Homo sapiens: one gene and its partners. The protein of the gene in region 2 interacts with the protein of the main gene of each other region in a pairwise test. Each region holds a gene or a part of one and is shown on either strand. Other genes may lie near its edges.

What was found.
Region 1: the proteins of UTP14A (region 2) and BLMH interact in binary tests that used the Homo sapiens proteins (3 or more experiments, as listed by UniProt).
Region 3: the proteins of UTP14A (region 2) and CSNK1D interact in binary tests that used the Homo sapiens proteins (3 or more experiments, as listed by UniProt).
Region 4: the proteins of UTP14A (region 2) and SMYD1 interact in binary tests that used the Homo sapiens proteins (3 or more experiments, as listed by UniProt).

The regions. Positions count from the first base shown.
Region 1 is NC_000017.11:30,260,912-30,267,945, reverse strand, and holds part of BLMH (bleomycin hydrolase), read left to right. Parts: intron 1-991; coding exon 992-1,061; intron 1,062-7,034. UniProt on the Homo sapiens protein: The normal physiological role of BLM hydrolase is unknown, but it catalyzes the inactivation of the antitumor drug BLM (a glycopeptide) by hydrolyzing the carboxamide bond of its B-aminoalaninamide moiety thus protecting normal and malignant cells from BLM toxicity.
Region 2 is NC_000023.11:129,916,140-129,923,173, reverse strand, and holds part of UTP14A (U3 small nucleolar RNA-associated protein 14 homolog A), read right to left. Parts: intron 4,000-7,034; coding exon 3,880-3,999; intron 3,780-3,879; coding exon 3,685-3,779; intron 2,718-3,684; coding exon 2,594-2,717; intron 2,500-2,593; coding exon 2,422-2,499; intron 2,372-2,421; exon of another isoform or gene 2,232-2,371; intron 1,981-2,231; coding exon 1,587-1,980; intron 1-1,586. UniProt on the Homo sapiens protein: May be required for ribosome biogenesis.
Region 3 is NC_000017.11:82,249,677-82,256,710, reverse strand, and holds part of CSNK1D (casein kinase I isoform delta), read left to right. Parts: intron 1-1,133; coding exon 1,134-1,282; intron 1,283-3,466; coding exon 3,467-3,695; intron 3,696-4,106; coding exon 4,107-4,277; intron 4,278-5,183; coding exon 5,184-5,332; intron 5,333-6,531; exon of another isoform or gene 6,532-7,013; intron 7,014-7,034. UniProt on the Homo sapiens protein: Essential serine/threonine-protein kinase that regulates diverse cellular growth and survival processes including Wnt signaling, DNA repair and circadian rhythms. It can phosphorylate a large number of proteins.
Region 4 is NC_000002.12:88,091,825-88,098,824, forward strand, and holds part of SMYD1 (histone-lysine N-methyltransferase SMYD1), read left to right. Parts: intron 1-1,692; coding exon 1,693-1,731; intron 1,732-4,770; coding exon 4,771-4,960; intron 4,961-7,000. UniProt on the Homo sapiens protein: Methylates histone H3 at 'Lys-4' (H3K4me), seems able to perform both mono-, di-, and trimethylation. Acts as a transcriptional repressor. Essential for cardiomyocyte differentiation and cardiac morphogenesis.

The DNA of each region.
Region 1 (7,034 bases), on a different chromosome or scaffold from region 2:
GGAGTGTTTGGGTTAGCAGAGCCAAAGAGAACCAAATCCCATATAGATGAGACTCATCATATAGTTATTTGCAAGTGGGAGTTGACAGATGAAATCATTAGGCGATAATACAGGGGTGAGTGCTCTTCTCATGCTACAAAGATTTAAGTTGCCTTGACATCAGTAAATGTCCTGGGTAAACATGAAAGAAAAAAGTCTTTTCCCAAATGGAGCCTTCCTCTTGTCCCTCTCTGTGTCACTATAGTAAAGGCTGTAAATGAAGGTTGTTGTGATGAGTATCACTGTCCCTTTAAGAAGACCAAAATTGAGCTTATTTTAATAATGAAGATGGAAGAAGGAGAACAGTAGAAGTGCCTGGCTTTTGTTTATGAAAATGGTCTTTTTACTTTTGCTTTGCCATTCAGTCTCTTCTTTGAAATTCAATATTTGTGTAACTGGATCAGTAAAAGAATGCATTTGGGAGAGTATCATTATTTGGTTTCCCCAAGTAGAAAATCAGGCAGTATGATGAGTTTGTTTTGTTTTGTTTAAAAAAGACTCTGACCAGGTTTTAGAATTATTCCTAAAATAAAGTAGGATGCATTTGCTTTAATCAATATTGATTGATTAAAAGCAAGAATCCCCAGCTTCAAATGTTTACTGCTTTTAGTAGGTTAATATAGTTTTTCTTAGTCAAGTAGCATTTTTACATGCCTATTTTATGTATACAATAGAATAGAAAGGATGAAATAGTATTTATTGCTTTGTTAGTTTATTATGTTTTTACCCCAAGAGATTCAAATTCCATTTCTACTGGAGTATCCCTTTAGTGATCGTAGGAAATATATAGCCCTGACCAAGTACTGTTTAGAGCAGGCTGCCTGTATAGAGCAGGCTGCCTGTATAGAGCAGGCTGTTTCTTTCAAGTGGCTACAGAAGAGCTAAAATTATATGACACCTCAGCAGGGAGAATCTGGCTTCAGACTACTCACCATCATCCACTTTTTTGCAGGATGATCAGGATGGTGCTTTCACAAAATGGAGAGTGGAGAATTCATGGGGTGAAGACCATGGCCACAAAGGTGAGCTCAGTTTGGTAATACTAACTCCAGGTGACTGGGCCTGCTCTACTCTGCCTGTCTGGGTGTCAAGCTGCTCTAGTGTGGAGGATTTCTCAGTAATTGGCTCCACTGACTAGATTATTCTACAGAAAAATCTGAGGATCTGATTTGCCCCCAGGATTCTCCTGACCATTATGGCATGCCTGAACTCCCAGGTTGGCTCTGAGACTGCTATGTGCTGCATTTGTTGCAAACTGTGTTGACCCTCCCCTCTTTGTAGACCGCTTGGCTAGTGAGGAGGTTGAGTGCCCTTGCCAGGACACTTGCTATATGGCATTTGATGCATTTTCTTTTTCTTTTTTTTTTCTTTTTTTTTTTTTTTGGACAGAGTCTTGCTCTGTCGCCCAGGCTGGAGTGCAGTGACGTAATCTTGGCTCACTGCAAGCTCCACCTCCCGGGTTCACGCCATTCTCCTGCCTCAGCCTCTGGAGTAGCTGGGGCTGCAGGCACCCGCCACCACTCCCAGCTGATTTTGTATTTTTAGTAGAGACGGGGTTTCACCGTGTTAGCCAGGATGGTCTCGATTTCCTGACCTCGTGATCCGCCCGCCTCGGCCTCCCAAAGTGCTAGGATTACAGGTGTGAGCCACTGCGCCCAGCCTTGATGTATTTTCATCTACTACATCAGTACTCTAGAAAGTCAGAAGCCTTCTGTATGGGAGAATGGGACTGGCAAGAAGCTTTCTTTAGGCATTTATTAGAGACTCCTTAGAAGTTGTCATACCTAAAGTGGAAATGAACACTTTGCTTACCACTTAGCACTTCTTTATACTGGCAAATCAAAACCTAGGGAGAAGTCATAACTTACACTAAGTAGACTAAACAAAATAACACAGTAATATATGAGTTGTAGAAAAATTTTAAAATACAGATAAAAAGTCTCTAATAATCCAACCACCTAGAGATCACTGTTGATTAACAGTTTAGGGTATATTATTGTAAAATTTTGAGACCACATTTTTAAAGACTGTCTTTAGTAATAGCTTTTGAAAGAGATTTTACGCTTTAATTTTTAGGGTTCCAAACCAAAAGTGGCAATCACCATGGCATATGTGTACCTGTGAGCATGTAGATTCATGTGTGCTGGGGGCATTTTATAGCCAGTTCTTTCTCAGAGTCCCTTTTTCTTTTAGCCAATGGATTCTGGCTAGGAAAAACATTAACCGCACCTTAGTAGACTAGTTAGAAGACTGAGAAGAACCAGGTAGGGAAGCCAGAGAAGTGACATTCAGAGATATTTGGAAACAAACTTGAGCATACATTTTACCCAACAGGAATTAGCCAGGCATTTTATTTTTAAAAAAAGAAAGAAAAAGAAATTTTAGCAACTCTTTGTTGTTGCCCCTCTCTGTGTTTAGAATCGTGATTTTCCAGCTATGTTCCTCACAGCCGTAGGATTTCCAAGGGTAAAAGGTAGAGGAGGGGGTGTGGAGGTTTGGATATGAGCATATGGGACTTCCATAGCTCCTATTTGAAAAATTGCTGTTTTAGAAGAGCCTGTTAAGCTGAGTTTTGAACTTGACAGCATTTTAGTATGCTGATTGGGCAGCACAGGCTTGTATGTGATAGCCAAAATCTGAAGACCATTTATTTGTCATTCGAGGGCTTTTCATCTCTCTATGAGAATAATCACTGGTGGATTTTGGCTGACTGTCCCTGGAATATGCTGTGATACTCAGCAGCCCAGTGTTTATATGTAAACAAATACAAGTGCTGTTACTGCATTTCTCTTCATCATCAGATAGTTACATGTCTACCTTCTGTGATTTCTATAATTGTTCTGTGATTTTAGGGGTGCCTATTAAGTTAACTACTACGAATTAGAATACTTTTTAAAATTGGTGGTTTCTTGTAAGGTGAATTTTATTTTAAGACAAATACACATTAGGGTCAAGTAGAGAAGGGTTTAAACCTCAGCAAAGTTAGCAGAGTAAAAATAACTCACAGTTTAGTTATATCTGTAAGTTGGTGATAGTTAAGAGATGGATACTTGTCTTAAAATTTGAAAGATTTGATTATTTCTAGCAAACATAAGATACTGAGTTAAAGTTTTCCTGTTGCTTCCAATGAACCCCCTGCAGCTTCTGTTTCATTTCTGGTCTAATTTGGTTCCTATAATTGGATTTGTTATCATATAGGTTAGCACCTAGGAAAAGAACTAAAGTTATATTTGTTTAGATGAGCCTGGATCCGTCAGCTTGCTGCGATATTTTTCCATCTGTAATAGTCAGTGAGTTTGAAGATAGTAGTGTTATCTGGTTAAGAGAGGATAAACACTTGTAAAATCAGGAAAATGTGTTTTATGTAGTGTGAGTTAATGTCTTTATTATTTTGAACCTAAATACTTAAAGATAATTTTAGGTCACTTTACTGTATATAATTTTTCCATTTAGCTTTACCTCTTTACTTTTACTCAATAAAAGTTTTGCTTTTGCTAACTTACTCATTTCATTATTATGCTTAGAGAACTGTAAAATATGGGATCTTGCTATCCCTGTAACTCTCCTGTAATCCTTCTTAGTGAAATCTGCAGCTATCTAGTAAAGATTAACTTTTTTGTTGTTCTCAAATAACTGAAATGCCTGTGACTATACACAGCAAAGCATTTCAGTAGAGAGCCAAAAGATAAGAAATAGAACTGAAGTGGGGGTAGGGAGTCGTTCATTCAAGCCAAAATAAATTATTCTCATGTGTTTCTTGGTAATGTTCTTTCTAACTTAACAGGAAGGAAGGAAAGAAAACATGATCTAATTTAATTGGCACACTTGGCCTGACCTCAGGAGAGCGCATAGTATGTTATTATGTTGGCAATATGTGTTTATCCCAGCAGGGCCTTCTTGTCTGTCATCCTAGTGGACATTGGCTGGCAGGTCTGAGGTAGGACCTCTGTTTATGCTCTCTTGGGAGATATGACAACCTTAAGAAGCATTGCTGGGATTTTGTTTCTGTAGATAACATTGTTAACAGTTTGTTGCTATTCTCTTTGGGATTTCTGACTGTTAAGATTGATGTTTCTGAAAAAGCAGTGTTGATAATACATGCTGGAGATAAACAGAGCAAAGATACCTGGGCAAGCTGCCTTTCCCCTTTGCCCAGCCCTGGCTTTGGTTCTCCCCATTGGTCATGTTCATGGCTCTCCTGCCCAGAAACTCTTTTGTAACACATAACCTGACTATTCCAAAAATGGACAGAAGGTTTCTTCTGAGCAGGAGGACATAAAAGGAGAAATCAGTTTTTGCTTTACTGTACCAGTTGGATTACTTCAAGTTGATGAATTCTAGTATTCATAGTCAGTTGTACTGAAAATTGGATGCATATCTAACATGTAATACCAACCTGGGTTTCTTTTCTCCCCTGCTTCTTAAAATACTTGACTATCCATTTTGTACCTTGTTAATGGATCATATCAGAAATGAATTTCACAATTAGGTGAGGGAACAGACTTCGGGATTTGATATATTATCTTTCATTTTGAAAAGTTGATAAAAATATTTTATAAAATATTTAAGAATTTAAAATCAAGGAAGTCACCTTTGATTCCTCTCGTTATTAGTCAGAAATTCATCTGAGAAGAGCCTAATCTCTAAGCCAAAGTGACCTGCAGATCCCCTAGCTAGTAAATGATAGAGCCAGAATTATAACCCAGATGGCCTGACACCAGAGCCAGTTTTCTTAACCACTAAACTGTGCTTTCTCTCACCTTCCCTGTTCTAGTAGCATGTCGTCCACTCAAGAAATAACAGGTCAGTTCATGGTCATTGGTGACCAGAAAGAGTGGATGAAGGGATATAAAACTGTATGAAGGACCTGGAGATGTTATGTAAATGTCTGACATTGGGAGAAAAGGCCCCTAGAGCATCATTTGTGGCTGGGAATCTGAGTAAAGAGTGGAGATTGGGGCATTCTGTGAGGGTTTGTCACATGTTAGCACATTGTGACTTAGGCAAGTCAGAAACTATGCAGCCACCCAAAATTTCCCTGAATTTTGTCCATGCTGCTTTATAATAAGGTTATTTAGTTGTTTTTTTGTTTTGTTTTGTTTTTGCTTTTTTGAGACGGAGTCTTGCTCTGTTGCCCAGGCTGGAGTGCGGTGGCGCGATCTCAGCTCACTGCAAGCTTCGCCTCCCAGGTTCACGCCATTCTCCTGCCTCAGCCTCCCAAGTAGCTGGGACTACAGGTGCTCCCCACCACGCCTGGCTAATTTTTTGTATTTTTTAGTAGAGACAGAGTTTCACTGTGTTAGCCAGGATGGTCTCGATCTCCTGACCTTGTGATCCTCCCACCTCGGCCTCCCAAAGTGCTGGGTTACAGGCGTGAGCCACCGTGCCCGGCCAAGGTTATTTAGTTCTTAACTTTTTATCTTGGACAATTTTAAACATATATAAAGTAAACAGGATTGTATTAAAGAACCCTGCATATGCCTGTCACCCACCTTCAGTAGTTATCAATATTCTGTCATGCAAATAATAGTGTATTTGATAGTCAATAAATTAAATTCCTAGATGGTCTTTCTAATGAACCAGTCTTACTATGAAACTTTACTTCTTTGTGATTGGTTCACTTAGTTATGAGATTGTATTCCATTTCTAGAGCCTGACACAGCAGAACTCTAAATGTGGAATTATCATAATATAGTTCTTAATGCTTATTTGGTCCAGTTTCTCAATATGATAAGTAACAACTTTTAAGTGAAGATATGGAGGATATTTTCTAATTCTGCAATGTTCACTGAAGGAAAATACTTACCTTTTAAAAATTTTGTCTCTCCTGGTTTTCATTTTGAACCAAGATGAGTTTTCCATTTTTCACATTGCTTTTGTTCCTTTCAGATACATGAACATTTGAAATTGTTTTTAACCCACATTTTTAATCTTTTCTTACAAGTGAGCCTCTCTGTTCCTGATTTCTTTCATTTTAGTAAAATTTTCAGACTTCCTTCTAGAAAGGAGCCTCTAAATGGTTTCAGTTAAAGATACTTTGGCATGTTAGAGATTAGAAAGAAACATGTTATCAATTCAGACTATATGTAGATTTCTGCTGCTTCCTAAAAACCAACATTATGACCTTTAATTGTCTCACCAGCCCAACTGCCACAAGTGATTTTGGAGATGGTATATTCAAAGCTAGGCACAAAAATCAACATATTCTTCATAAAATGCTATGTTGTAGAACCAGGTGAGTTGTGGAGAGACAGTTACTAATAATTAATTCTTGATTTTAGATGCTGGGCAGTAATTTAACTCATTGTAGTGTCACATTTCTATGTCAATAACATGGACAATTTGTTTCTTTATGAGCTCCTACAGTTTGTATGTAGCCATCAAATGAAATAATGTATGCAGGCATTTTTCAAACTGTATATTGTTATATAAATCTAAGGAGTTATGAACAGCCCATATTTCTGTTGGAGGTACTCAGGACATAAAGCTACAGGGCATCTTGCTTCGTGAGAATTCAAAGTTCACTAATGTATTTGTATTTATTTCTCCTCATGACATCAGAGTAGAGTAACTCAGGATGTGAACATGGGTGATTATACCCAGGTTTTATGTGAAGAAACTAAAACTTACTGACAGTTGTGTCTTGTTTGGGTTGCACAGAATCAGAGATAGAATTGGAATTCAAATCTCTTAATTTGACACAGACAGCTTCCCTAAAATTCCCTATGTATTACTTACAAAAGACAATCAGTTATTTGCAGGTCTGTTTGAGGTTCAGTTCTGGATCTCTAGTACAATAATGGAAACTAGGCAATGTTGGGCCAGACTTGCTGAAACAAGAGTGAATTGTAGAACTTAAAAGCACAGGTTTCTGATTTCCGAGAAAGGGGCAAGTTGCAAATTTGTTTTGTCACCTCAGAGGGTTTCATGTCTCTCCAGGCTTGGGAAAAGTGCTGCTACCATTAATCTGGATTCTGGGTTCTTTGATAAGGGCT
Region 2 (7,034 bases):
TAGATCTGGCCTTTGGACACATGTACGTTTATTTCTCAAGAATCAGGTTTCCTTGCTCATTTTCACTGGGGTCCGTGGCTTTCCAGTATTTTAGGACACTCTTGGAAGGTGTGAGAAAATTCAATTTATTTACTGTCCAAGGAAATGCAAATCTATCTTTCATTCTTTCATATCACAGTCAGCCGCTCTGCACATTTAGCTAGATGGCCAGTTGTTGAGGGGGCTCAAGAGAAAGCCACTAGGGTCCTGTGGTCATATATGTACACCCCCACAATCTCAGCCCGCTGTGCTGCTTTCCAAAATTCTCTCAGAAGTGACTACTTGCAATTATTAATCCCAAAAATATCCAGCCAAAACTATTAAGTAAAGGTCCCTATAATATATTCTAAATGATAGCTCTTTTAAAATAAATTTTTGTATGTGGAAACCTGAAAAAAAAAAAGGAAAAAAAAAAGGAGGCTGGGTGCGGTGGCTCACACTTGTAATCCTAACACTTTGGGAGGCTGAGGTGAGAGGATAGCTTGAGGCCAGGAATTCAAGACCAGCCTGGGCAACAGAGCAAGACCTCAGTCTCTACAAAAACTTAGCTCAGCATGGTGGCACGTGCATGTAGTCCCAGCTAGTTGGGAGGCTGAGCCAAGAGGATCGCTTGAGCCTGGGAGGTCTTAGGCTGCAGTAAGGTATGATTGCACTGCTGTATTCCAGCCTGGATGACAGAGCAAAACCCTGTCTCTTAAACAAAAAAAAGTAGAAAAAAATAATTCTTTTGCCGTGTAAAACCAGATTTTTGCCATCATCTAAATGCATTCCTATGTGAAACCAAACCAGACCTGGTAATTTGTCCAGATAGCCAAGTGATTTCTCAATGTAGCTAGTTTCCTAGGCAGGTTTTTTAGTGTCCTGGTTTATTGCCAGAATGGGAACTCTCTGACCAATCTCACAGGTGCTAACATTGTCAATAAGATCTCTTCAAGATAACAGGTAGAAAATATAACATACAAATAGAGCCTGAGTATGGAGTCACAATTCTAATTTGCCATGTGGCCCTGTGGAGTCATTCATTCCGTAAAGTCTCACCCCATGTATACACACATCAACTAGCATTAAGAAGTGCTAAAAATGCCACTCCTACTTAACCAACAAAACAAAAAAATCCAGCAACTAGACAATGTTTCCTAATGTCTCAAAATTGACCTATCTGTGTCTACAGGTGTGAATGGACTTTCAGATTTGCCATTCTACCATACGTACTTCTCCCTGGTGTGTAGGTACCAGGAACGCTAACTCATACCCTGACTTCGAGTATGGTTTAGTTATTATGGGTTTCTGAAGGCTGTAAGCCCCCAAGAACAGAAAATGTGCCTGAACCACGTTGCACGGCCATGCAGATGACTGCTTATTAAATGTCTTCGAAGAAAAATAGTTATGAATCTAATTTCTCTTCAGGGATCCAGTGTACGCACTCTTGCAAGTCCCCAGCGCCTAATCACTATGCAGTTTTGTGTGTGGGTGGACACATTTTTTTTTTCTCCCATAGTCTGTCCACAGCACTAGGAATTTCCCTCTTCCATTTGATCACAGCTCACCTTTTGTTTCTTGACTGCCTGCTGGCTCAGCATCTTGGCTGAGCTCAGATCTTTTTCTAAGGGATCGCCTTTCCTCAAATTCTCTCAACAAAATTTCTTCTTCTGCCACTGGTCTTTCTTCTCCCTCACTTTCAGAAACTCCATGGGCCTCAAGCTCTGGCAGTTGCTCAGGGTCCTCCTGGGTTGCAGCCTCTTTGGTGTCACTGGTGCAGCTCCTGAGCATCCAGGGATTCGGCCCATCTGCATTCATCTGCACTTCATTCACTACATCAGGGACAAGGAGTTCTTCCACATCTTCTGTGCCTCCCTCCTCTTCCTCACTCTCAGAGGCTACCTGGAGTTTCTGTGTCAGTTCTTTGTTCTTAGACAACTGTTCCTGCATAGCTTGGCGAGCCTGGAGGAAAGAGTCACAGCATGAGAGCCCTGTCATTAGTGACCGCAATAACACCTTTCCTGGTCCATTTCATAAAGCTGCCTCCTCTCAATTTGACTTGGTGAGTATTTCTTACTGGTACCTACTGTTTAAACTGCATATACAATGCTGGGTTAATAGCTATGGTATAAAATGGAAGACAAATTCTTTGTCCTCAAGGAATCAACGGTGAAATAAGATTTTAAAAAGCTCCTCTCCCCCTTTGGACTTGCCTTCAATGCTGTTTCCCTTTCATCTCTCCTTTTCCACCTTGTTCCTGGTCATTTTCCTTTCTGCCTTAGAGATTTTTCTGATGCCTTTTTAGATTCCTGGTTTTCCATCCATCCTCATGGCTCTTCCCCAACTCTGCTTCTGCTAGCATCCTCCAATTCCAGATCTTCTCTCACCCCAAGGGTCTCTTACCTCCAGGTCATATTTGGCCATAATTGCCTTTGACTTGGCCCATTTCCCACTGTTTTGGTGCTTAAGGCTCATTCTTTCCTAGAAAGAAAGGACAGAGTGAGATTTACATCTTTAGTGCCTTCCAAGGAAAGCTGGTTCAAAGGGGTGGGGGTGGGGCAAGAGGTAGTCTCACCATCATTCTGGCCTTTTCAATTTTTTCCAGTTCTTCTAGTGCTGCAGCTGGATTAACCTTCCGCAGCTGCTCAAACTCTTTTAGGGCTTTCTTGGCCTTTCCTTTCTTCACGACTTTGTGATACCTGTAGGGGTAGGAGGGAAGAGTTTAGCAATTTAGCTGAAGCACGGATGTCATAGGCACAAGTGCCCATACTACCCAATGGGTTCCCTAGGCAGGGGGCTGGAATGGGCATCATAGAGCTAGTTGGCTATAGGGAGTCAGTTTGGGACCTGACAGGACTGGCAAGATTCTTGGTACCCACAGTCCTCAGGGTGGACCTCTGCAGCTCAAAGAGTCTCCTTTGCCTCTATAACTCAAGGGAGGGGTAGAACAAGTTTCATTTTTTTTTTTAGACAGGGTCTCACTCTGTCACTCAGGCTGGAGTGCAGTGACATGATCTTGGCTCACTGCAGCCTCCACCCGCTGGGCTCAAGCGATCCTCCCGCCTCAGCCTCCTAAGTAGCTGGGACTATAGGTGCACATTACCATGCCTGGCTAATTTTTGTACTTTTAGTAGAGATGGGGTTTCGCCATGTTGGCCAGGCTGGTCTTGAATTCCTTACCTCAAGTGATCCACCTGCCTGAGCCTCCCAAAGTGCTGGGATTACAGGTGTGAGCCACCGTGCCCAGCCAGTTTTGCCATGTTGCCCAGGCTGGTCTTGAACTCCTGAGCTCAAGTGGTCCATCCACCTCGGCCTCCCAAAGTGCTGGGATTACAAGCATAGCCACCACACCCGGCCGAACAAGTTTCAAAGAGGCAAAAAGGCAGGAAGGAAGCCCTATTGGCCTTAACAGCTCTGGAATTCAGAGCTGATTCTGCAGAACCACTCTGTGATGCCTTGGAAGGCAGAGAAAGTAACTGAATAGTCATCTTTTTGGCAAAACTGTATGAGGTTGGTTTGGGGGGAACAAAAGGCTAGTCACTCCTGTTTGGGACCTCATCTGCATGACTCTAGTTGCTGCATCAAAGGTTCTCTCCAAAGAATTCATGATGAACCACATGACTTTCTTCTGTGGAACCCAAGGCCAGTTCACAGGGGCCTCCTTACTTTTTACTTTTGATTTTCTTCTCTCTTCGAGCCTTGGCCTCATAGTAGGACTGCAGAGCCCGAGCCCTCTGAAGCTCTGCTCGTCGCATCTTTGCCTACAACAAATGAGACTTACAGTGACACCTGGGCCAGAGGACAAATGCTAGGAGAAGCGTGGCATGCCTGGGTGTGCTGAAGGGCCTATGACACACTTACCTCTTCTAGGCTCATGGCTCGGAGAGAGGCCTTTTCCACAGGGGTCAGTAAAGGGTCTGTCACTGGCTGCTTGTTCTTATGGAGGAGGTTGAAAATTTCCTGCTCCAGGGGAGTTCTTGCCTTAAAGAAGCAACAAAACATTCTGAGTCTTAAGCCATGCTCTTACAGCTTTCTCTCTTTACATTCCTATGATTCTCTAACTTATGACACTATAATTGGAATCATAAGTGGATAGGATTGGCTGTTACAGCAAGAGAAGGGGGTTCCAGTCTTGTTGTCAGAAGTATAAATAAAGCCTTATTTGATTCTTATATAAGACAACTTCAGCAGGGAGACGCTGAGGCTACTCTCTAATACTGCTGAGGGGGATCACTGTGTTCAGGTTACCAATATATGTTTTTTTTTTTCTTTTTTCTTTGAGATGGAGTCTTGCTCTGTCGCCCAGGCTGAAGTGCAGTGGCGTGATCTCGGCTCACTGCAAGCTCCGCCTCCTGAGTTCACGCCATTCTCCTGCCCCAGCCTCCCGAGTAGCTGGGACTACAGATGCCTGCCACCACGCCCAGCTAATTTTTTGTATTTTTAGTAGAGACAGGGTTTCACCGTGTTAGCCGGGATGGTCTCGATCTCCTGACCTCGTGATCCGCCCGCCTCGGCCTCCCAAAGTGCTGGGATTACAGGCGTGAGCCACCGCGCCGGCCCAGATTACCAATATATGTTAAACTGATTTCCATTCTCTTAAGAATCTAGGCACATTGCCCTTGAGTCCCTGTATTGTTATGTATCATTTGAAGCACATAACTATTACTTTATAGTTAGGAATCTCAAATTCATATCATAAGCCTTCTTTTAGAATATTTCTAGAGGGAAGGGGCGGTTAGTTTTTTTTTTTTTTTTTTTTGTTTTCTGAGACAGAGTCTTGCTCTGTCACCCAGGCTGGAGTCCACTGGCACTCCAATCTCAGCTCACTGCAACCTCCACCTCTAGTGCTCAAGTGATCCTTCTGCCTCAGCCTCCTGCGCAGCTGGGACCACAAGTGTAAGCCACCATGCCTGGCTAACTTTTTTTATTTTTTGTAGAGACAGGGTCCTGCCATGTTGCCCAGGTTGGTCTTAAACTCCTGGCCTCAAGCCATCCTCCTGCCTTGGCCTCCCAAAGTGCTGGGATTACAGGCGTGAGCCCAGCATGCCCTGTGAGATTAGATCTTAAGATAAGCATTATTTGCCACTGATGGTATACCTAGGACATATATCTGCAAATGTCTCAGAGGGGAAGCCCAACTTTTTTTGACCATAGCCAACTGCTATAAACCATGCATATAAGTGTTCTTGGTATCATTAATTACTGATGAAAGAAAATGAGAAAAAACATGGCATTTTTTTGGCAGAGTCTTCAAATGTAGTTTGTGGTGGGGTGTGTGTCTTAATTTCTTGAGCACAAAAGGATATTGCCTGAAAAAAAATATAGGATGGGCATGGTGGCTCAGGCCTGTAATCCCAGCACTTCGGGAGGCTGAGGCAGGAGGATTGCTTGAGCCCACAAGTTTGAGACCAGCCTGGGCAACATGGTGAAACCCCATCTCTATTTATTATGTTAAAAACAAACAAACAAAAAGACCTTCATGTAATCAGCCTGTTTCCTGATGGTTCAAGTTGAACTCTCCTCATTTTCTAACTTTGGCTCCAATTCCTCAGTTTCCAGTTAATTTTACATGCTAGGCAGAGTATGTATGAAACGAATGAACTGTAAACCAGTTATTCCACATGCTATCATGAGGATGGCTAAATATTCAGGCCGATCATGCCACGGTCCACATTCTGGCAAGGCACAAAGACAGCCCTAGGCAACAGAGCTAGTTTCAAACCTCACACACATATTATGTGTGGTTTTCTTCAATAGCCATATACATCGTGGTCAGTATTAAACTTACAAATATTTGGATAAATGCATAAACGCACATCATCACATGTTACACGATGCTATTGATTTAACCATAAAACTATTCTACTGAATAGTAAAGGTATATGTTCTTCCACTTTTAGTATTTGCAGTAGTGATCAATCTCAGGCTACAAAGTGATTTATACTACAATGTTGTAATGTCCCTTCAATTCAATTCAATTTACAAACATTTATTGATTGTAGCTATATTCCAGGCACTTGTATGGGGTGCTAGGAATACACAATTGATTAAGATAGTTCCTGTCCTCATAGAGCTCACAGCCTTTGAGAGCAGAGACATATACAACACAAACAGCATAACATAATGGGTTAAATACCCTTTATGTTACCCTTAAATAACATAACTGCTACGTTATTCTATAGGGGTAATCACAGAGGAAATTACCATTAAATATTATTGGGAGGTAGGTTAGGCTTAGGGAAGGAAGTGACCTTTTGAATTAGGCTTTGAGGCCTAAGTACAATTCTGTCAGGAGGAAAAAAAATCCAAACAGATGAGCATAAGCAAAAAACACAGACACAGGGAAAGGAGTGGTATGTAATAGAACAACGTGTTGTCCAGCATAGCTAAAATGCTACGTAATTTTATTTTATTCTGTAAGTGAACAGCCTTTGAAGGATTTTAAGCAGGAGAGCAATGATCAACTGTGTTTCAGCAAGAAAATCCTGCTGATTGTGTAGAGGATATATGTAAAGTTCCAAAGGAAAGGTTCAATGAGGGCCTCGATTAGGGCAGTGAAAATGAAAATGAAGAGAAAATAGGAGCATAAGGGCTATTACAGAGACAGAATTTGCAGGTCTAGCCCCCTGTATAAGCTGGCGGAGAGGGAGACAGTGAAGGGGTCAAGAAGGAATCAAATGACTGAGGTTTCCAACCTAAGTGACTGGGGTAGGGAGTTATGCTGTTAACTGAGTTGCAGAATGAAGGGGGTGGTATAGGTTTTGGAAGTCTGGGGAAAGGAAATGCGAAGCTTACTTTGGACTGGACTAAGTTTAAGGTGCATATGGGGGACCCAGGTGATCCCTGCTAGTCACATGGAATATGAGACTGGAGCTTCAAAGAAGGGGTTGAGAGTGATAGTCGAAAGTTATGAAATTTTCACTCCTGTAATCCCAGCATTCTGGGAGGCCGAGGTGGGCGGATCACGAGGTCAGGAGATCGAGACCATCCTGGCTAACACGGTGAAACCCCGTCTC
Region 3 (7,034 bases), on a different chromosome or scaffold from region 2:
CCCACCTGTTGCTGCAGCATTTGAATTTGACTGTGGCGTGAGGCTGCGGTGCACATTCCTGTGCATGTTTTTACCAGCATGTGTTTTCCATCTCTCTGAGAATCTTCTTGTGGTCGTTGACTTTTCATACGTAACGTCTTGGGTGAAGTGTCCAGGTCTTTCACCCATTTTTTCTAAAATGGATTTTTTTTTTTTTTTTTGACAGGGTCTTGCTCTGTGGCCCAGGCTGGAGCACAGTGGTGCCATCACGGCTCACTGCAGCCTCCATTTCCTGGGCTCAAGTGATCCTCTTGCCTCAGCCTCCCAAGTAGCTGGGACCACAGAAGCGTGCCACCACACCCACCTAATTTCCAGAATTTTTTGTAGAGACAAGGGTCTCCCTTTGTTATCCAGGCTGGTCTCGAACTTCTGAGCTCAAGCAGTCCTCCCGTTTCAGCCTCCCAAAGTGCTAGGATTACAGGCATGAGCCACTGCACCTGGCCCGTGTGCCTTTATAGTGTTGATTATGCCTTCAGCACTGATACTATGCAGCCATCTTTAAATTCTTCCTGTTGGATTTATTGTGTCTTTATTTTCACTTCCCTGATTTGTATATTTCAATCCTGGGTTACTGTGTAAATCCCCAAAAAGTTTTCATTGCTTTTGCTTTTCTCTTATCCAGTCAAATACTTCTACCAACATCGGAGTAATTGAACATATTTTCTTCTCTCACCTAACCCACGGTAGCTGCTTTCTCTCCTCCCATCTCCTGTGTGACGTTTCTGGCGGGCTCTGCTGCTCCTTTATGCCTGAGCTCTTTTCTTTCCCACATCGTGGCTGCTTTCTGTGTCTCCTGCCCCCCTGCCCTAGAAGACGGGAGTCGGGGAGGTGGGGCTTCGATCCCCTCCTTGTCCCCCTTACAGCTCCTGTCTGCTTGGCCCTCATCCAACGTCTGCCTCAGGCCATTTGCTAATAGATGGGGCCTAATCTCGAGGATGGGTCCCTGAGGAGCGGCGTTGCCGGGGTCTTCTACCTCCACCACCCCTCCCCCGTTCAGGATTGTCACCATGACCCCTTGGTGTGCACAGTGCAGACTTAGTGTGGAGCTGAGGCAGGGCCTGGACTGAAACACTGTGTCTGATTTCCTTGCCTAGTGGGCATCCCCACCATCAGATGGTGCGGGGCAGAGGGGGACTACAACGTCATGGTGATGGAGCTGCTGGGGCCAAGCCTGGAGGACCTCTTCAACTTCTGCTCCAGGAAATTCAGCCTCAAAACCGTCCTGCTGCTTGCTGACCAAATGGTAAGGACTGTTTCCTGACAGTTGGCACACACTTGCTGTCTGATAGAATCAGCCACTCGCTTGTGCTGTTCTTGCCATTATTATGGCCATTAATTCACAGAGGAAATGGAAATTTGCTGAGCCTCAGCCTTGAGGCTGCAGTGGCTCAGCTCACTGGCTTCTCGAGGCTCCGGTGGCTCCGCTCACTGGCTTCTCGAGGCTCCGGCGGCCCAGCTCACTGGCTTCTCGAGGCTCCGGCGGCCCAGCTCACTGGCTTCTCGAGGCTCCGGCGGCCCAGCTCACTGGCTTCTGGAGGCTCCGACGGCTCAGCTCACTGGCTTCTCGAGGCTCCGGCGGCCCAGCTCACTGGCTTCTCGAGGCTCCGGCGGCTCAGCTCACTGGCTTCTCGAGGCTCCGACGGCTCAGCTCACTGGCTTCTCGAGGCTCCGGCGGCTCAGCTGACTGGCTTCTGGAGGCTCCGGCGGCTCAGCTCACTGGCTTGTCGAGGCTCCGATGGCTCAGCTCACTGGCTTCTGGAGGCCCCGGCGGCTCAGCTGACTGGCTTCTCGAGGCCCCCGGCGGCTCAGCACACTGGCTTCTCGAGGCCCCGGCGGCTCAGCTGACTGGCTTCTCGAGGCCCCGGCGGCTCAGCTGACTGGCTTCTCGAGGCTCCGGTGGCTCACCGCACTGGCTTCTCGAGGCTCCGGCGGCTCAGCTCACTGGCTTCTCGAGGCTCCGGCGGCTCAGCTCACTGGCGTCTCGAGGCTCCGGCGGCTCAGCTGACTGGCTTCTGGAGGCTCCGGCGGCTCAGCTCACTGGCTTCTCGAGGCTCCGGCGGCTCAGCTCACTGGCTTCTCGAGGCTCCGGCGGCTCAGCTCACTGGCGTCTCGAGGCTCCGGCGGCTCAGCTGACTGGCTTCTGGAGGCTCCGGCGGCTCAGCTCACTGGCTTCTCGAGGCTCCGGCGGCTCAGCGCACTGGCTTCTCCAGGCTCCGGCGGCTCAGCTGACTGGCTTCTCGAGGCTCCGGCGGCTCAGCTGACTGGCTTCTCGAGGCCCCGGCGGCTCAGCTGACTGGCTTCTCGAGGCCCCGGCGGCTCAGCGCACTGGCTTCTCGAGGCCCCGGCGGCTCAGCTGACTGGCTTCTCGAGGCTCCGGCGGCTCAGCGCACTGCACTGGCTTCTCGAGGCTCCGGCGGCTCAGCGCACTGCACTGGCTTCTCGAGGCTCCGGCGGCTCAGCTCACTGGCTTCACAAGGCTCCGGCGGCTCAGCTCACTGGCTTCTCGAGGCTCCGGCGGCTCAGCTCACTGGCTTCTCGAGGCTCCGACGGCTCAGCTCACTGGCGTCTCGAGGCTCCGGCGGCTCAGCTCACTGGCTTCACGAGGCTCCGGCGGCTCAGCTGACTGGCTTCTCGAGGCTCCGGCGGCTCAGCTGACTGGCTTCTCGAGGCTCCGGCGGCTCAGCTCACTGGCTTCTGGAGGCTCCGGCGGCTCAGCTCACTGGCTTCTCGAGGCTCCGGCGGCTCAGCTCACTGGCTTCTCGAGGCTCCGGCGGCTCAGCTCACTGGCTTCACGAGGCTCCGGCGGCTCAGCTGACTGGCTTCTCGAGGCTCCGGCGGCTCAGCTCACTGGCTTCTCGAGGCTCCGGCGGCTCAGCTCACTGGCTTCTCGAGGCTCCGGCGGCTCAGTTCACTGGCTTCTCGAGGCTTCTGGAGGCTTCGGTGGCTCAGCTCACTGGCTTCTCGAGGCTCTGGTGGCTCAGCTCACTGGCTTGGAGGCCACCTTCTCGGTACCAGCATAGCACGTTTCCATTCAGTGGGTTCCTCAGTCTCTCAGGAACACACGTGATTCCTAAGCACCTCCGTGCAGTTTCTCTGCTAATCCTGGTGTGTAGTCTGTGCAGAGAACAGTGCTGGGAGAGACCGATGTCTAGTGGCGGGTTGTCCCCTCTCTGTCGCCTCACCTCTCTGTTTTGTGGGAGCTGAAGGCAAAGCGCCTAGGCCTGTGGAGGGTGGAGTGTGGAGGGTTGCTGCAGGCACCTGGGGGAACAATTTGGTCAGTTCGGCATCCCCCTCGCTAATTGTTAAACTACCCTGCTGTGGCTGAGGGGCAGGAACAATGCAGCCACTGATGTAGTGTCCCACAGTTGAGCGGTCCCTCCCTGAGACTGCCCTGGGGTGCCATCTCGCGCCCTTGCTCTGCTCACAGATCAGTCGCATCGAATACATTCATTCAAAGAACTTCATCCACCGGGATGTGAAGCCAGACAACTTCCTCATGGGCCTGGGGAAGAAGGGCAACCTGGTGTACATCATCGACTTCGGGCTGGCCAAGAAGTACCGGGATGCACGCACCCACCAGCACATCCCCTATCGTGAGAACAAGAACCTCACGGGGACGGCGCGGTACGCCTCCATCAACACGCACCTTGGAATTGGTGAGCCCCTGGGCATGGGGTCACTGACCTGGGGTGCCTTTGGGCGCGTCCATGCCTCAGCCCAGGGAGAGGCCAGCCTCTCGGGGAGCTGGGGCTGCAAGCGTGTCATCAGACCTTTGCGGCAGACAGGCTGGCTCGTGACTGCCAGGTGTATGGGGGCAGGCGGATGCTGGGACATTTCTGAGTCACCTGTGATGTGTTTGGGAATTTCCTTAGTATGCATGAGGGGCAGCTCTGGGTGAGAGTGATCTGGGCATGTGTGTCCGAGGTTCGTCTCCACTGGAAGTGCCAGCTGGAGTGATCTGGGCATGTGTGTCTGAGGCTAGTCTCCACTGGAACGGCCAGCCGGGTCTTTTGCTTTGACGTGAGCACGCAAGTGCCGTTCTTCACGCCTTTCCCTTTTCTTTTCAGAACAATCCCGAAGAGATGACTTGGAGTCTCTGGGCTACGTGCTAATGTACTTCAACCTGGGCTCTCTCCCCTGGCAGGGGCTGAAGGCTGCCACCAAGAGACAGAAATACGAAAGGATTAGCGAGAAGAAAATGTCCACCCCCATCGAAGTGTTGTGTAAAGGCTACCCTTGTAAGTCTCTGGAGGCCTCTTCTCAGCGGAGCTGCTCACAGGGGTTGCATATGTGTCGGGTGTGCCGAGACGGCTCAGTCTGGGTTTTGTCAGAAGAGTTGCTCACCTTCCAAAGGGGTGGTGGCAGGAAAGCGGGGCGCTTTTGTGTATGGAGGTAACAGCCTGCCCTCCTGTTCATCTTGACTTACTTGCCAAGTGCCCATCAGCGTGGGGAGTACTTGGAGGCCCTGGAGAGATGGCAGGCAAGGCAGGCCCGAGCCTCAGGGCCCCAAGTGGCTGGAAAGGGATGGACAGGCAGTGGTGGGGCCTCTCTCTGCAGTGGCTGCCCTCTCTGGCCCCCTCCAGGAGCTCGGGAGATTTCCTTTGCATTTGTAGGATTGCCCCAGGATACACACCTCAAATGAAACTAAATTGTGCTTTATGACTTCTTTTTTTTTTTTAAGACACAGTCTCACTCTGTCGCCAAGGCTAGAGTGCAGTGGCGTGATCTCGGCTCACTGCAAGCTCCGCCTCCCGGGTTCATACCATTCTCCTGCGTCAGCCTCCCCGGTAGCTGGGACTACAGGCGCCCGCCACCACGCTCTAGAACTTTTTTTTTTTTTTTTTCAGTAGAGATGGGGTTTCACTGTGTTAGCCAGGATGGTCTTGATCTCCTGACCTCGTGATCCGCCCTCCTCAGCCTCCTAGAGTGCTGGGGTGACAGGCGTGAGCCGCCGCACCCGGCCGTGACTTGAATACTTTTCGATGCTTTCTCAAGGCTTCAGGTCTTAGAAATCTGACAGGTGTTTTGCATCTGTCCTTCTCCCCTTGAGTGTGCAGCAGCAGGAGGTAGACAGCGACGTTGGCAGAGACACCTTGAGTCGCAGTTGGGTTTCATGAGTTAGCTTTGAGTTTCTTGTTTTGTAGCCGAATTTGCCACATACCTGAATTTCTGCCGTTCCTTGCGTTTTGACGACAAGCCTGACTACTCGTACCTGCGGCAGCTTTTCCGGAATCTGTTCCATCGCCAGGGCTTCTCCTATGACTACGTGTTCGACTGGAACATGCTCAAATTTGTAAGTCGCACTGCCAGCACGTTCGCTGAGTGTGGTGTGCGGGGGATGGCTTGTCAGTGAGAGGCCGGCGGCCGTCTTGTTGAGGGGCTGTACCATATAGGGAGTGTCTCTGGTTGTGAAGGGCAAGTGTGTAGTGGGCAGGACCTGGACTGAGTGGGTGTCTGCCTGCCAGAAAGGGGTGCCAAGAAGTAAGACGCCATTAGGGAACGCAGAGGGGTCCATGGAATTCCTGGGTGTGGACAGCAGGAGGCCCCTTCCCTCCCTGTCACCAAGCGGAGCTAGGGCCCAGAGCATGCCCTGGGGGCAGAGGGTGGGGGCTGGGGGTGCGCATTCCCATTCGCTGTGCCACATGGTCGTGGTGCCCACGAGATGAGTGGGGTTGGGGCCTGGTGAGGTGCTACCCGTCTAGCCTGACTGACCCTGTCATGAGCTGATTTTCCCTGTGGCTTTCTTGATGCGGTGTGAGTATGCAGTGGAGCCTCTAAAACAGGCAGCCCAGCCCTGGGTCCATGTCTGAGCTGAATTACTTTTCAGACACCGCTGTCAGAAATGAAGCTCCTGTGGAACTGTTGTGTTCCTTCATTAAAAACTTACTGTTTTGTTGTCAGTTTTAAATAGAATTTGGAGCTTTTCCAGGCAGCAGTCTGATGGAGGAGCAGAACTGCCTCTTGGGAGGGTACAAAAACGGCAGCCTTGTCCAGTAGTCGTGCAGGGGCCAGGGAGGGGCGGGGTCTCCAGATGCTGGGAGGGGTGCACTCTGTTCATCTTGACTTACTTGCCAAGTGCCCATCAGCGTGGGGAGTACTTGGAGGCCCCGGAGAGATGGCAGGCGAGGCAGGCCCGAGCCTCGGGGCCCAGGTGCCGGGAGGGGTGCACTCGGCAGGGCAGATCAGTCCCTCTGCCGGGGCTGTGCTGCCTCGGGAGGAATCAGAGCGACCCTCCTGCGGCATTAGAGTCACCCGGCCCTCAGAGCAGGCTAGGCCAGCGTTTTCCGTAAATGGCAGCATGAGGAGTCTGGGCGGTGCTGGCCGCACGGTGCTGCAGCCGCAGGTGTGTCGGTCTGTGTGTTGCCTGGTGAACGTGGCTGTGTCCAATGAGCTGTACTTGCAGGAAGAAGTGGCACCTGGGTTTGGCCCCGGGGCTGTAGTTTGCAGGCCCCTGCCGCACAGCATTGGCAGTTAGAATCTGCTTTTTCATAGGTTGCTGTCTCGGCTTAAAATCTGACCTCCCCACCCCCGTGCATCTGGATAGTGCAGCACAGATCCGGCTGCCGGCTGCTGGCCACGCCACCACACCTGCACAGGCTGTTGGAGGCTGCAGGGTCCGGACCCTGAGTGTACTCCTCGTCCGACCAAACGCTCTCATCCCCACCCCGCTTTCCTCCCCAGCTGTCACCATTTGGGGCCTGTCTTTGGCCTCCGATGGTTCCTGTCCCTCTCCTCTTTCTGCACGTGTTAGTGAGCATGTTCACAGAGCAGCAGGGGGTAGCTGCTGCCCATTTGGAAGTTTAAGGAAGTTCTGAGCCCACAGGGAGATGCCATGGCGAGTGGGGTTTTTTCGATTGTTGGGGGAGCTGAGAGGCCTGGCTCTGACCCCTTGTGGGGATGATGCTGTCATCCCATGAGGAGAAACGTGCAGCCTGTGGGGGGCTTTGCAGGCAGTCTCGTCCCAGTGCCCTTTGGTAGGTATTTTCTCACGTGGC
Region 4 (7,000 bases), on a different chromosome or scaffold from region 2:
CTGCACTCCAGCTTGGGTGACAAAGTGAGACCTTGTCTCTAAAACCAAACCAAACCAAACCAAACAAAATAATATAACAACAAAAAGAAACTAACAGGAATGGTGAGGTGCCCAGGGACTAGCAACACATGAAACCATCACCACCTCTAGGCCTGGAAGGGCAGGTGAAGGAAGCACTGTTTCTGCAGCTAGTGAGAGCTGGACCCGGGATAGAGGGCCCCCAACAGCTCAGCTGTGGCTTATAACTGTGTCTAGAGAAACCAGCCAGCTGGCACCATGGCTCAGAAAAGAGGAAGCCAATGGACTAGATAGTCCAACCCCTCATTCCCCCAACCTTCTGCTCTCCTACCATTGGCCAAACCCCAACCAGAAGCCAGACCGCAAAGAAACCTGGGTGACGCAACCCTCAGAGGCCAGCCCCCTTTTCTGAGACAGCACAGATGAGGGGGGACATAAGGGCACATGATGGATTTGGGGGTGGGGTACAAATGGAGAAGAATCAGCAGATGGAATGAGCTCCTGGTGGTCCATGGCTCAGGATGGGGAAATGTAGGGGAATGAGGCCCGAGCAATATTAATTGCTTTTGCTCTTAGAGATGAGCTTTTATGACAGATACAAGCTGACTTTGAGCCATCAACAATGAGCAAGTTTCCCCCAAAAACTTCCTAGAAGCCAGACAATGGTGTCTGGTTCTCAGCTGAGAATCGGGCCTAAGCTTCAATATGCCAAGTACCCTGATTTCTCTTTTCCTTCCTATTTCTGAAACCAGGCTCTTAAGTAATTGAGAAAGTCACTCAAGATGGGAAAGTTTATTTTGGACTCAGATGATAATCTTTTCTCAGCATTTGTGTTTCCTTTCTGAAGCCTTTTGGGGTCACTGGCCTGGATCTCATGGAATCCTCCCTAGAGGGGCTGTTGACTGAGCTTGACCTGGTTGGCAGAGAGGATCAAATTCAGCCATGTATGGGCCTGGGCCTTCTAGATGGCCCTCTTCTAAGTGGTGGTGACCCAAGGCTCCTCTTGTCATTGGGTGTAACAACCACAGGAATCTAGGAACTCTTTCTTCTGTGTCTGCTCTGGCTTCCTTGCATCTACTAATTTCTAGCAGCCACATTTTATCCAGGCTTCTTGGCTTTTGTGCAAGAGAAGGTGACTTTGCATTTCCTGTCTAGCCACCTGCCATAGTGGAAAGAACCCTAGACATGGGGTTAGGGGCCCAATTTGAACCCCAACAATTTTTACATACTATCTCTGTGACCTAACCAGACTCCATGTGCACTTCAAACTCTTTCCAAGACAGACATCCAAAGAGGCAATGTTTATTCACCCAGGATGCTTAATAGAATGATAATAACAACATTGTGCATGTTTTTCCAGCACTCTGCTTTTAACTGTCTCATGACAGTCTCATTACAGGTGAGAACACTGAAACACAGGGAAGGGAAGGAACTTGTTCAGGTCAGGGCTGAGTACCTTTGAATCCAGAATGTCTTGTTCCAAATTCAGTGCACTTTCCCTATACTAGGCTGTGTCTTGTCCAGTGAGTCCAGCTAGAAGGGGCTAGGATAAAGGTTATTGTGATGGCCAAAGCTTTGATACTGTGACCCAGAATGCTGTACACCCTTGCACTGGATCACACCTGATCAGCCAATGATAATGATTTCCATATGGGTGTCTGTTTTGTCTTTCAGTCATGAGGCAGTGAAATCCATGTTTCATACCCAGATGAGGTGGGTCAGTCCTTTCAAGCATCCCTGCTCCTCTGACCCATCTCCCTCACTTACCTGGTTTGCTGGGGCCACCCATTCCCGAGACTTCTTGGCTGCCATCTGTCCATAACGTCCTTCTGCATCCCAGTGTCTCATCTTTTTAATGCATTTAAATTAACCATTTTTTCCTTACCCACATATCACCTGCCTTGCCTTTGCTTTATTTTGCCTCCTTTCTTCCTCCCTTTCATGCCTCACTTCCACTGCTCTTCCAACCTTGAAGCATGAACCCTTGTAGTCCACATCGTCTTAGCAAAAGCCTATCTTGTCTCCCTAAACCCTGCTTACCATGAAATGGGGACTGTGACTGACCTACTAAAGGACTGTCTGTTTATAAGCCCCAACTTCTCACCCAGACTGGGCTCCAAAAAATAGCATCTATAACTGATATTTTTAATAAATATTTATTCCTAGTATTCCGCTTACTGCTTCTGACCAACTATGAATTAGTAGTTTAGGTTAAATTTTACTTTTCTTAATGACAACCAAATGGCCCCAGATGGGTCTTAGGGTGGGGTTGACAGCTCTTGAAATAGTCTTTGGATTAAGAACAAAATGCTGTGTGAGAGTTTGGGCTTTGGGAATGCTGGGGTAGAAGTGGTTGGTGCACTTGAGTCTGTGCTGGTGTGCACTGCACGTGAATTTGGATGATTCACATCATCTCTTGGACTTGGGTTCCACATCTGTAGAGAAAGGTCAAGAGGAGAGTGCTCTAGGGACCTTCCTAGTTCTAAGTCTCTGCAGCTCTGGGCTCTGTCCCTAACCTCTGTGAGAAATACTTAAATAGGCTGCCTACTTGTGGCTCAATTAGCTGAACTATGGAATTGCAGATTGTTTGAGGTAGAAGGGGTCTGGGGTCCAGAGTGGGGATGAAGCTTGTCCAAGAAAGCTGGTTGGAGGGAGAGCCAGGGCTAAAACCCTCATCTCCTGCCTCCTGCAGTGCTTATTTCAGGCTGGTCTCCATTCCCCTCCCCCAATCTCCAGTTTCAAGTAAGGTAAAATCAGGCATACATATATGCATCTTTTCATATTTAAGTGACATTAAGTTAATTTGGTTTTGAAAAATTTCTAATACCATTGAAATAATCAGACACCCTGAGACCGTGCAAGAATTGGCACAATCATGATGGGAAGTAAAATTACTGGAAATTCCAGCCCAATTGGCCACTGATTCACTGTTGCATTAGAATATGTCACTATGGTGGGCTGCCTCTGTAAAAGGGACTCGTGGGGGCAGAATTGGTTACTTACCCAACAGAGTTAAACACCAGAGATCCACACTCTATCCTGGCCCAGGAGTTTCTCACACAGAATTATTAAGGACATTAGTAGAGTCCTAAAAATCAAGGGCTTTGATGCATCTTAATTCCCATGCATTGAAGACCCAGGAAGCAGCCTGAAAGCAACCAGGCAAGGCTACTATGTTGAGGACAATTGTGAATGGTATGAAGTACCATTCATGATGGTATGAAGTTCCAATCCTGGCTCTGTCCCGAAAGTGTTGTGGGACCTATCCCTCTTGTGTCACTATCCTCATTTGTGAAATGAGTGTCCCTGCAGCTCAGACATAGGATTCTAAGCAGAACTGTGAGCAGAATCACCCGGCCTTCCTCTCCTACTGGCCATTCATCACTATAGTAACCGCTGCTGCTGAAAATTGGGGTAAGGAACAAAGGAAAGGAGGGACAAATGGTGAGCAGGCACTTCAGTTTTGCAGGCTCCACAGGAGTTGTTTTTATACATATTATCACATTAATAGGCATGTCAGTGTATCTCACTTTGGGAGAAGGATTTTTATCCATAAGTGGTCACCTCAGATGCCTGGATATGAACGTCACTACCATTCAGCAGTTGCTCCCTTGACTGTCACCTCAGACCACAGGGAAGGGGCTGCCTTTGACTGGGACTCTTCTCAGGTGCTGGAGTCTTGCCCTTGCTTTTGCATGCTGTCCAACTGAGCCTTTCTGGAAGGTAAAAGAAGTGACCACGGATCTCTGTGCAGATGCTCTCCCCAGCCCTCTGCATCCTGCCACTTCCTCTCTGGATGATGGCTTCCTACTAGGCAGGGAGGTCCCAGGATTCTGGGGAGATACAGGAGCATGGTTTAGGACCCAGCTTGCAGGGCCCACCACTTGTTTTCTGTAGCTGTCTGGCCTTGTGGTGGAGGATGCATGGCTGAGAGGTCCACGGACTGACCTCCACCTGTTTGGCTCAGCTGGATGTCAGTTCTGCAGTGGGTTTTTACCTTCAACATCTTCAGTACCTATCACATTAGGTAAGGTGGGTAGTGCTGTAGCTAATTGAGGGTCAGGTCTAGGCTGGAAGGGAACTGAAATGCCATCTGCCCTTGCTAACTACCTTCAACCAGTAAGCCACATCTCCCAATAAACACCAAAGTGAACAATGCAGTAAGCTAACAGAGCCAGCCTTTGTTTATTTGCCTTCAGTGATCTCCAGTGGGCTAAGTCTCCTTAGGTAATTTGGCCTGAACCATTGGACTGAAGGTTAAGAGGTGACTTCAAGTTAGACACAGAATGGGCCAAGGTTGTGGGTAACCGAATGTGTATGTTTCTGAGAGAGTAGTCCCCAAACTAACCAGAAAATATTTTTAGGTTTTTTCTTGTTTGGAGTTTTTGCCTTATTATTTCTCCCTTCCTTTGTTACAGACAATCAGTAGCTAAAAAGTAAAAGGAGGCTTACGGGCATGGACGTTCTGTCTGGTTTTATGACCAAGCCCAGCTCTCTACTAGGAGTCTATTTGAGCTGATTCCACAGTAGTTAACTGAATGGAATGGATCAGACGGTTCTAAGGAATAGAGTAGAATTACCCAGAAAATCATCCTTTAGGTCACATTTCTCCTTTTGTGGGGTCAATGGGAGTTTCTGAGTGTCAGTGAAAGTCATTGTCTTTGAGACCCAACTCCATGAAGCCTTGGAGAGCACGGATCCCATTCCAGTAGGCCTGGATTCGATTCACCTTTTCCTTTCACCCTGCTTCAGAATTGAGCTCCGGGCCCTAGGCAAGATCTCAGAAGGAGAGGAGCTGACTGTGTCCTATATTGACTTCCTCAACGTTAGTGAAGAACGCAAGAGGCAGCTGAAGAAGCAGTACTACTTTGACTGCACATGTGAACACTGCCAGAAAAAACTGAAGGATGACCTCTTCCTGGGGGTGAAAGACAACCCCAAGGTACACACAGCCCTGCTGCTGAGGTGTTTGTGTCTGTCTTCTCCGGGAGCCAGTCACAGGTGGTTTCACAGCTAATCCGTGTGCCCTGCCCATGAGCTTCCTAGGGAGCAACTGTCACCCTGGGGAGGAGGCAGGGCATGAGAGCAGAGCACCGCAGGTAGGTCCCAGCTAGGTCCTGGCACTGCCACTTGCCAGGTGTTTGAGTTTGGGGAAGTCACCCAGTTTTCTCAACAGTAAAATAGGAATGATGGCCCCACTGCAAGAGGTTGTTATAAAGATTAAAGGAGATGACGTGTGTAAAAGGAGTGGCATACGGAGTAGACACTGGAAATTTTGGTTCCTCCTCTTACTCCTTTATGAGTTGAGTGATGTTGAGAATTTAAGGTGTTCAAATCAGATGGGCAAAGAGATTTATCATCTGGTTATCAAAAAGATATTCCTAGTCCCATGGGGATGGGCAGTGTGGAGACAGGGCTAGGTTTAGATTGGTCAACATCCTGAACTCCTGGGTAGCTGTTGCCAGTTGATGGTGAGTCTGTTGAGCAGCAGAGGAAGGCTTGCTGAGGGGAGGTCAGGAACCCAGCTGAGCTGGGAGAGAGAGCTGAGCCGCCAGGTGTCAGAGTAGCCAGTTAAAGCAACAGAGCAGAAATGAGAGTGAAGTATTTAATCACTTACTGCAATGGTGTAAGCAAGAAGCTAAAACCGAAGAAAGCACTGACTCCTCTTGTCCATTTCCTCCAGTGAAGCTGTGCTCAGGGGGAGGATGAGGGGGATCAGCACAGGCATGGAGGCGTCTCACATGACATTCTCTTTTATAAGGACGCTAGTCCTATTGGGTTAGGAGCCCACTCTACTCCAGTATGATCTCACCTTAACTAATTACATCTGCAATGACCCTATTGCCAAGTAAGATTTCATTTTGAGGTAGCTTCTGGGGCTAGACTTCAACATATGAATTTTGGGAGGATACAATTTAACCCCTAACACTGTGTGTGCTACCATTTATGAACATTAAAAGGCACACACACACACACACACATGCACACCCATGTGCATGCAAGCATACTCGGTTTCCATACAGACAGAAGTAGGAGGACCAGCGATGCCTGGGGTGAAGAGATTGACAGTCACCCCTCCCAGGCAGAGACAAAGCAGTTGGGGTCCAAGGATTTATGTTTTCTATAGGAACAACCTCTTTTCAGAGAATCAAAGGTGTGTATTCTAGGACATGTATATTGGATGCATGTGAGAGGCACTGAGCACTGCATCATGGGCGCTACAGAAAAGAATTTGTTATTGCACTCACCCTCACCCCGACCTTTCAGAACCTGCGGATAACATGTCTTATCTGTGAGCCAGTCAGCCTTCCCTCCTGGAGACTGGCCCTGAGTATTTGTTTCATAACTTGCTTCCACACTGCTTAATTTATTTATTTTTATTAAGAGGCCAGACCCTCTTTTCTCTATTCTAAAATAAAACAACCATGCGATCATTTCTTTAGATTTTTTGATGTTTACCTGGCAGTTTCAATAGTTCAGTAGGCTATGTGTGGCCTTTAGTTCCCATCCCTTCACTTTAGATATGCTGTTACCAGCTGGTGACAATACACACACATCTCCAGTATGAATTGCAGAGTTGGCATTTCTCTTGATATAAAAGATTGATGATTTCTGCTTGAACCTACCTGAATTCAAGGCAAAAGCTTTCTATTATATTTTATATCAAATTGAGTTTCTCTATCAAAACAACTCAAAAATAACTCACCTATACTAACTGAGCAGAAAAAAATTGAGTATATCTTTTTAAAAGCAAATGCTTCTTCAGGCATTAAAAAAAGGCCATCATAATGTAGTAGGAAGAATACTGGAAGAAGAATTATGAGGCCTGTGTACTAGTACTGGCTATGACTCTAAACATCTGAGCTTGGCCAAGTCTCTTCCTTCTGGGCCTCAGTTTCCTCATCTGTAAAATGGGGAGTTGGACTAACTTATTAACCATTTCCTCAAGCTGGACTATCTACAATGTCATCACAATCATTTC